Regions from separate parts of the Homo sapiens genome. Here region 2 is linked to region 1. The links come from fine-mapping of genetic effects on gene expression. Tissue or cell type: sun-exposed skin. Region 1 holds a variant in brackets; the other region holds the start of a gene. All regions are shown on one strand. Distances are between the middles of the regions.

Region 1 (4,247 bases):
TTTTTTGAGATAAAATTCATGATTTTTAATCTTTGTATAAGAAATATATCAGAAGTTTGTAGTAGATTAGAGAGTACCAACTGGGAGTCTGAAAAGCTGTCCAAAGTGGCAAAACAGGTACTTAGACTCTCAATCCTAAGGCTGTATAGAGCTATAAACGTGGCAAGACCTTTGGAGTCAGACAGACCCAAACTCAAATGTTGGATCCATGTATATGGAAAGCACCTGACAACAAGCCTAGCATATGTACTTGGTAAAAATGATTGCCAAGTGTAGTGTTAATGAGTTTTTGGATATTGAGTAAGTTATTTAAATTTCAATTTCATCTTTAAAATGAAATAATTGGAAAGGATAATTTGAGTGAGGGTATGAAATTATGTGTTCATAAGAGAGGGTATGTGGCCGAGTGACTAGAGGCGAGTTTATAACTATTCTATCTAATAAAACTTTGTAATCTGGTAATTTGTGTGCTAAAAATAACTTTACCTGTTGTATAGTACTCTTTTTTTATGCCTTAAACTAAAGTGTTCAAAATATCATGGAAAAATGATCTGTGTTGCTTACAGATTTGGTGACTTTTAACTTTCCTATAATGTTGTCAGAATATGAATTTATACTTTCAAATTCAGCATTTATTCTATTGTGTTTTTTTTTGCATTCTTATTTCTAAACCACTTTTCAGGAACTAGAAAATAAAGAAAAAAAGTTAAAGAATTTAGAAGATTCTCTTGAAGATTACAACAGAAAATTTGCTGTAATTCGTCATCAACAAAGTTTGTTGTATAAAGAATACCTAAGGTATAGGTATTAGCAAAACTATAAATATAATTGCAGTATATTCTTGTTAATTGTGAAAGTAACGTAAGAATAATTTATGTTTTGTTCTTCCCTTCTTCTTCTTCCTTTGCAATTGTATTTTTTTTTACTCTGGTAACTACTGTTAGGAACTTATTTATGGAGACAGTGTAGCTTAATGATTACATTAAGCCTGGGATTATCCTGCCTGGGTTTGAGTCATTTAACGTTTGCTTTTTGTAAGAGCTTGAGCAAGTCATCTTACCTATCTGTGTCTCAGTTTCCTTATCTGTAAGTTACTTTGTAAGTAATACCCTTTTCATAGGATTATTGTAAAACGTAAATGAATTATTAGATGAAAATGCTCGGACTAGTGTGTGGCACATATGAACAGTTTGTAAATGTTAGCTGTTGTTAGCATCATTCATCATCATCACAATCATCATTGTTCATATATGTTTATAGGGAACTAACATATTTCTCCTTATTTCTGTCATCTCATCTAAATCAATAGAATGATTTCCTTAATAGGAATTAGAATACCTAATCAAAGGTGATTTAAACACTAAGAATAATTATTATCTGACCTAACCAGAACCACAAAGCTAGTTGTAGGGCAGGTCATATTTGAAGGTTGTTGTTATCGCCTATGATGGTTGTAAAATAGCTGCATGAATTCAAGAAAGATGATGTGCCCATTGAAGAAGAGGAGCATTTTTTTCTACATAGCTTTTATTTTTAAATAAACATTTTTTTCTGGTGATACCTGGCAGACATTGACTCCGATCTCATTTGCTAGAATTGGATCACATGTCCAAGTCTGAACCATTCAGTTGCAAAGAGAATGATACCGCTATACTGGGTTTATGCCAAGAACATTACACATGTTTGTGGAATGCTCATGTGTAGACAACAGTGTCTTACACAACTTCAAAAAAATAATTTATATATAAATATGTTTTAAATTACTTTTTAAATTCACAAGAATTTATGGTATACAACATGGTGTTCTATATATGTATATACTATGCTATACAACATGGTGTTCTATATATGTATATACTATGCTATACAACATGGTGTTCTATATATGTATATACTGTGGAATGGCTAAATCAAGCTACTTAACATATGTATTACCTCGCATACTTTTTTTTTTTTTTCCTTGAGACAGAGTCTTGCTCTGTCACCCAGGCTGGAGTGCAGTGGCGCTATCTTGGCTCACTGCAACCTCTGCCTCCTGGGTCCAAGTTATTTTCTTGCCTCAGCCTCCCAAGTAGCTGAGATTACAGGCATGTGCCACCACGCCTGGCTAATTTTTGTATTTTTGGTAAAGACGGAGTTTTGCCATATTGTCCACGCTAGTCTCAAAA[T/C]TCCTAGCCTCAAGCAATCTGCCCACCTTGGCCTCCCAAAGTGCTGGGATTACAGCATACTTCTTCTTATTTTTTTTTTTTTTTGCACTAAGAACACTTAAAATTTACTCTCTTAGCAATTTTAAAGTATATAATATACTGTTATTAACTTTGGTCACTATTTTAATTAGACTTAAGATGTGTTTGTATTCAAATTATTTTGTAAGCATTTAACACCCAAATTTGAGAGTGGGGTCAGAATGTTGGAATTTGATTTCTAGAATTAGTATAGGGTATTATTTTCCTACTTTTTTTCTGTGTTCAATAAAATGTTTATAAGATTCAGCTTCAATTATATTATAACCCATTTAGTGGTGAATCAGGGAAGAATGAAAATAATTTGATAACTTTGTTGCCTTGCATTTATTTAAAAAATTTTTAATTCTAGGCTAAACCCTTTTTAAATGAAAGTTTAACTTCTTGTGTTTTCAGATACTGAATAGCTATGATACCTCTTGTGTTGAGAAAACTTTAAATTTGCATAATCTGAAGTTATCTTTTCTTATAAACATTTTATTAGGTTTACAGTATTGTCTTTTTGTTTTGTTTTGTTTTTAGTGAAAAGGAGACCTGGAAAACAGAATCTAAAACAATAAAAGAGGAAAAGAGAAAACTTGAGGATCAAGTCCAACAAGATGCTATAAAAGTAAAAGAATATAATGTAAGTAAAACATTTTTAACATTAGTATGCAATATTGTACAAAGTAGGATAGCTAGATTCAACAAGTAATATGGATGTGTCTTTGTGCAGAATTTGCTCAATGCTCTTCAGATGGATTCGGATGAAATGAAAAAAATACTTGCAGAAAATAGTAGGAAAATTACTGTTTTGCAAGTGAATGAAAAATCACTTATAAGGCAATATACAACCTTAGTAGAATTGGAGCGACAACTTAGAAAAGAAAATGAGAAGCAAAAGAATGAATTGTTGTCAATGGAGGCTGAAGTTTGTGAAAAAATTGGGTGTTTGCAAAGATTTAAGGTACATCTGATTCTTATTTTGCTTTTTCTGACTATGAAAAATTTCAAATATGCAGAAGATAGGATGGTATCAATAATGCTCATCACCTGAATTAATAGTTAACATTTATTAACATTTTGTCATAATTGCTTCTTCTGATTTTTGTGGGATGTTTGAATTGCAGACATTCCTCCCCTAAATATTTAATGTACCCTTTTGAAAAAGGCTTTTTTCTTTAACTAACCATAGTAACTTTATTATACCTAACAAAATGACAGTAATTTTCTAATATCGCCTAATACCCTGATTATAGTCACATTTTTTACATTTTTTGATCAAAGAATAAGCATTTGGATGTTACATCTCATAAATCTTTTTAATATAGAATCCCCTTGGTTTTCTTTTTCTCCAAAAAATGTTTGAAGATGTATCTAACTTTTGTGTGTGTGTCATTTTACTTGTTCCTGTGTCCCTTGTATTACTAAAAGTTAGGTCAGAACCCTAAGTTACATTCAGGTTTAAACATTTTTGGCAAGAATACTTCATAAGTAGTGTTCTATACTTTATATTGCATCACTTCAAGAGTATCTGGTTGTTCCATGTTTTGTAATTGATTACTCTGTTAAGGAAAAGACAAGCAGACCAAGTATGGTGGCTCATGCCTATAATTCCAACATTTTGGAAGGCCCAGGCAGGAAAATTTCCTGAGCCCAGACCAGCCTAGGCAATATAGTGAGACTCCGTCTCTACAAAAAATGTTTTTTTTTTTGTTTGTTTGTTTTTAATTAGCTTGGTGTAGTGGCACATGCTTGTAATCCCAGCTACCTGGGACATTGAGGTGGGAGGATCGCTTGAGCCCAGGAAGTTGGGGGCTGCAGTGAGCTGTGATCATGTGCCACTGATCTCCAGCCTATGTGCCTGTATAACAGAGCGAGTCTCTCTCTTAAAAGAAAAAAAGAAGAAGAAGAAGAAGAAAAGATAACCATATACCTCCATTATTAAGCAATTTAGCTAACTGGTGATATTTTGGTACCATACAAATAACAAATTATTTGTCAGTCCTAATGATTTTAGCATCT
Region 2 (4,247 bases), 34 kb before region 1:
CTCAGTAACTATTAAATTTCATTCCTACCATTGTCAGAGGTATTTGAATCACAACAACTCCATCTTGAATAGGGGCTGGGTAAAATAAGGGTGAGACCTACTGGGCTGCATTCTCAGGATGTCTGTCAGTCATTCTAAGTCACAGGATGAGATAGGAGGTGGGCACAAGATACTGATCATAAAGACTTTGCTGATAAAACAGCATGCAGTAAAGAAGCCAGCCAAATCCCACCAAATCCAAGATGGCGAGAAAGGTGGGACGTCTGCTCGTTCTCACTGCTCATTATACACTAATTATAATGCATTAGCATCCTAAAAGACACTCCCACCAGTGCTATGACAGTTTACAGATGCCATGGCAATGTGAAGAAGTTACTCTATATAGTCTAAAAAGGGGAGGAACACTCAGATCTAGGAATGGCCTACCCTCTTCCCAGAAAACTCATGAATAACCCACCCCTTGTTTAGCATATAATCAAGAAATAACTATAACAATCCTTAGTCTACCACCTCCAATGGGGGTGTATGCACCTCCAATTCTTTCTTGGCGAGATCCAGGAGCCCTCTCCTGGGGTCCAGATCAGAACACCTTTCCAGAAACACCATCCCATGTTAAATTATGAATTAAGAACACTGAACATGAAGAATGTTTAATTCAAATTATTGAGTAAACACTTACAAAATTAAAATATAACATTTAATAAAAATAGCAAGATTGAGGAACAAGCACTTCACAAATATTGGTTTCCCAGAATGTCTGAGGAGGTGTATAGAAGTTAAGAATATGTCCTCCAGCCAGAGAGATCTGTGTTCAATCACACTATTTAAGTTACTTAGCTTCTCCAAGCCTCAGTTTCTTAACTCAGATGGAAAATGAGGACAATGTAAGCACCTATTTCACTGGATTGTAAGGAAGAATAAACAAGATAATGAATAGTATTTGGCATATAATCTTTCAGAAAAGTAGTAAAATTGTCATTCCTATAAATCTAACTAATGTCTTTAAAATTCATCTCACAAAATCAGTATCTTTTTATTTTGTACTGAGCTACTTATTTTACCCAAATTGGGGGTTTAAAAAGAAACTCATTACTTATTTTCGAAAGGAAAATTTACTGTCAAGTACAGTAATTTTTTTTTTAAAGCAGCGTTTAAAAAAAAAAAAAGACAAAGCACTGGTCCAGATAGTTGGAAATGTCATTTAGATTTAAGTCTACAGCTTCTTAGGAAAGTTAGGTAGAGATGTATCATACTCCAGCATGATTGTGAGCAGACGAGCAGGATGAGCAAAACTTGCACGAGTAAGAGTGGTAAACACCAGAGAAGGCGCTTTCATGGAAGGGCACCCTAGGTAACCAAGCAAGTGGCAACAATAGTACAGGTGAGTCCTTGGATCCCTTCTCTCTCCACCCCCGGCAGTGGTCCGGACAAGTACTAACCTCTCCTCTCTAGAGCCTTGACTTTATACTAGCTCCACAACCATCAAGCCCCACGATCCGCGAAAGGAATGGTGCTACAGGTAAGGCGGGCGGGGTCGGGATGCCGAGACCTCTTGTCAATTCTTCGCTCGCCCCCAAACGAGGATCACGGCTGCGCGGCTCTCACTCTAACTATCAAGACAGATTCTGATACTAAACAAGGCTAAAACTTTTTGTTTTTTCCTTCTTACAGAAGGCACTACCCTGGACGCCGCTTGCAAACGCCTGAAGAGAAGGCAGGGTGTTCCCACTTTTTCAGAATGGGACCAGGCCCTACGGCCCCAATAGCAGAAGCTTCTCTAACCCAGGACTGCTCCCCTCAATTCCTCCCAATATGCTGACCGACAGCTCGACCTCACCTGGGGGCGGTTCCGCCAGGGGATGGCTTAGGAAAACCTCAGGAAGAGCAGCCCAGCGAGTGACGCCACTGAAACCACAGTCATGGTCTACCTCGTTCAGGCCACCAGTTTGCAGGCGCCTGAGCCGCTGCTCCTCCCGCCTCTCGGTCCTTCCCCGCCGCCCCGGTACCGTCGCAGTCTTACGCGTTGCATGCCGGGAGCGCCTTACCTCCTCTTCTCAGGGACTTCAGTTCCCAGCATGCAGAAGCCTCAGGCAGAACTGCACTCTGGGATTTGAAGTCCTCGTTCCACGCCTTCTCATCATCCTGAACACCGAGCTCTGGGACTCCGGCGGAGAATCTAAACGTAAAGCATCACCCACGGTCGTGAACTGTAGGCTCTCCTGGCATCCGGGATCTTATTCTGGCCTTGGCGGAGTTGGGGATGGTGTCGCCTAGCAGCCGCTGCCGCTTTGGCTTGCTCGGGACCATTTGGCTGGACCCAGAGTCCGCGTGGAACCGCGATAGGGATCTGTCAGGGCCCGCGGCCGGGTCCAGCTTGGTGGTTGCGGTAGTGAGAGGCCTCCGCTGGTTGCCAGGCTTGGTCTAGGTGGGTGGATCCTTGTAAGCAGGATTAGCGAGTCACTCCACGCTCAGGTTCTTTAGCCTGAGGGCCCGTGTGCCACAGCATAGCTACCCCGCCCTTCCAGCCTCGGGTCCCTAATACTGCCTTGCTTCGGTTCCAGTTTCCGCCGCACAACTTCACTCATTCCAAATGTTAATTTCTGCGTTTTTTTTCAGCCCCAATTCTGTTTCTCCAAATCAGGGATGATTGTCGGCCTTCCACAGACCCTCGCGCTTGCCAGGATTAGGGTGTTCGCGCGCATTGTGGGTAGGGGTGTGGAGGAAGGGATCCAGAAATCTTAAGTATTAACTTAGATTAGTGTTAGCAAGGAAGCCGTCACATTTTATTTAGCCGGGACACTCTGACAGTTTGTGCCGACTGCTATTTTTGATCAAGGCTATTTTGCCCACTTGTCTATTTTGTGGCCCAATTGTCTGTTTTGCTAACATCAGAAAGTTATAATGAAATAATCTGCAAAAAATGTAAGGTGCTAGAAAACCAATAATACTGTGTACCTTGAAAATGCTAATATACACCTGTTTTGTTACAGAGGTGGAGCACAGTGAAAGAATTCAAGATGCCACCTAATATAAACTGGAAAGAAATAATGAAAGTTGACCCAGATGACCTGCCCCGTCAAGAAGAACTGGCAGATAATTTATTGATTTCCTTATCCAAGGTGCTTAATTGGTCAATAATAATAGATATATACATTAACTTATGATTAATTTATTAATAAAATATGAATTTATTTTTTTCAGGGACAACTATAATTGTCACAATCTGGAAGTGTTCTTATATTTTGCTTGAAGGTTATAAAATATAAAACAGTTGCTTTTCTGTTTACTTAGGTGGAAGTAAATGAGCTAAAAAGTGAAAAGCAAGAAAATGTGATACACCTTTTCAGAATTACTCAGTCACTAATGAAGGTTTGTATGTAGTAGGTTTTAACTATAGGTTTGGCTATTAGTGGAACTATAAAAATCTGTTCTTATATAAGGTAATCTTTGTGAAAATACCTGGTAATATCTACATCACCACTAAAAAATGCAATATATTTAAATGTGAATTAAGTATTTTAGTGTATAAAACATTGCTAGTTTCTACTTAAAGTTTCTAAAAGGGTGTGTAGGGGAAATAGAATGAGTATGTTGAAAAGTAACATAAGGAAATATATCTTGAGGTCCAAATGACAAATGCAGACAATGACTGCTATAGGGATTTGTTAAGAGGGGAAATGATTTAAGAGATGTCAGAAGACTTCACAAAGGATCAATACTGAGGAGTAGTGTTAGATAAGTGGAAGGCAATGCAGTGGTAAGATAGTAAGGGAATTCTAGAGCTGTTGGTTACCATAAATAAATACTGAGAACAGGAAATATGTTTATTCTTTATATTTGAGGAAACAAGGTGCAGCAAGTTTGTAGCAGACTGTAGAGAAAACAAATCTTGGGTAAGTACTTTGAGATAGGTTGTTGAGGGCCTTAAAGGTGTATTTTATGCTATCAGCAATTGAGAAGGCAGTAAAGGTTTTCGAAACACAATTGATAGGTACAAAAATACACCTTAAGAAGGCAAAACTGAGTATATTATGTAGGACAAACTGAAGGAAATTGGAGCTTTGTAGACATCACATTATAGCGGAGTTTAAACCTGAAATTATGGATTAGAATAATAGCAATTGGAACAGAAAAAAAGTAGTGGAAAGACATTACAAAGGGAGATGTTGCATTACTGGATATAAGACTTGAGGACTTGAGGTAAAAAGGAGAATCAAAAATGTTTCATGCTATTAAAAATCTAGAAA

Evidence for each region. PIP is the estimated chance that this variant, and not a neighbour inherited with it, causes the effect.
Region 2: it holds the start of TMTC3, and the variant in region 1 is fine-mapped to the expression of TMTC3 in sun-exposed skin (GTEx, PIP above 0.99). The same link has a PIP of 0.9 or more in unexposed skin.

What each region holds. Positions count from the first base shown.
Region 1 is chr12:88,105,617-88,109,863 of GRCh38, reverse strand. CEP290 (centrosomal protein 290) reads left to right here. Exons shown (of 54, transcript NM_025114.4): 23 at 683-798; 24 at 2,766-2,868; 25 at 2,959-3,189. Among named protein-coding and RNA genes, the nearest start is that of CEP290, 34 kb to the left of the region's middle. The variant T/C (reference allele first, on the strand shown) is at 2,169.
Region 2 is chr12:88,140,078-88,144,324 of GRCh38, reverse strand. TMTC3 (transmembrane O-mannosyltransferase targeting cadherins 3) reads right to left here and starts at 2,018. Exons shown (of 14, transcript NM_181783.4): 1 at 1,838-2,018. CEP290 (centrosomal protein 290) reads left to right here and starts at 2,237. Exons shown (of 54, transcript NM_025114.4): 1 at 2,237-2,425; 2 at 2,991-3,119; 3 at 3,292-3,369. The coding sequence starts at 3,018. RefSeq lists enhancers at 1,648-2,151, 1,958-2,397.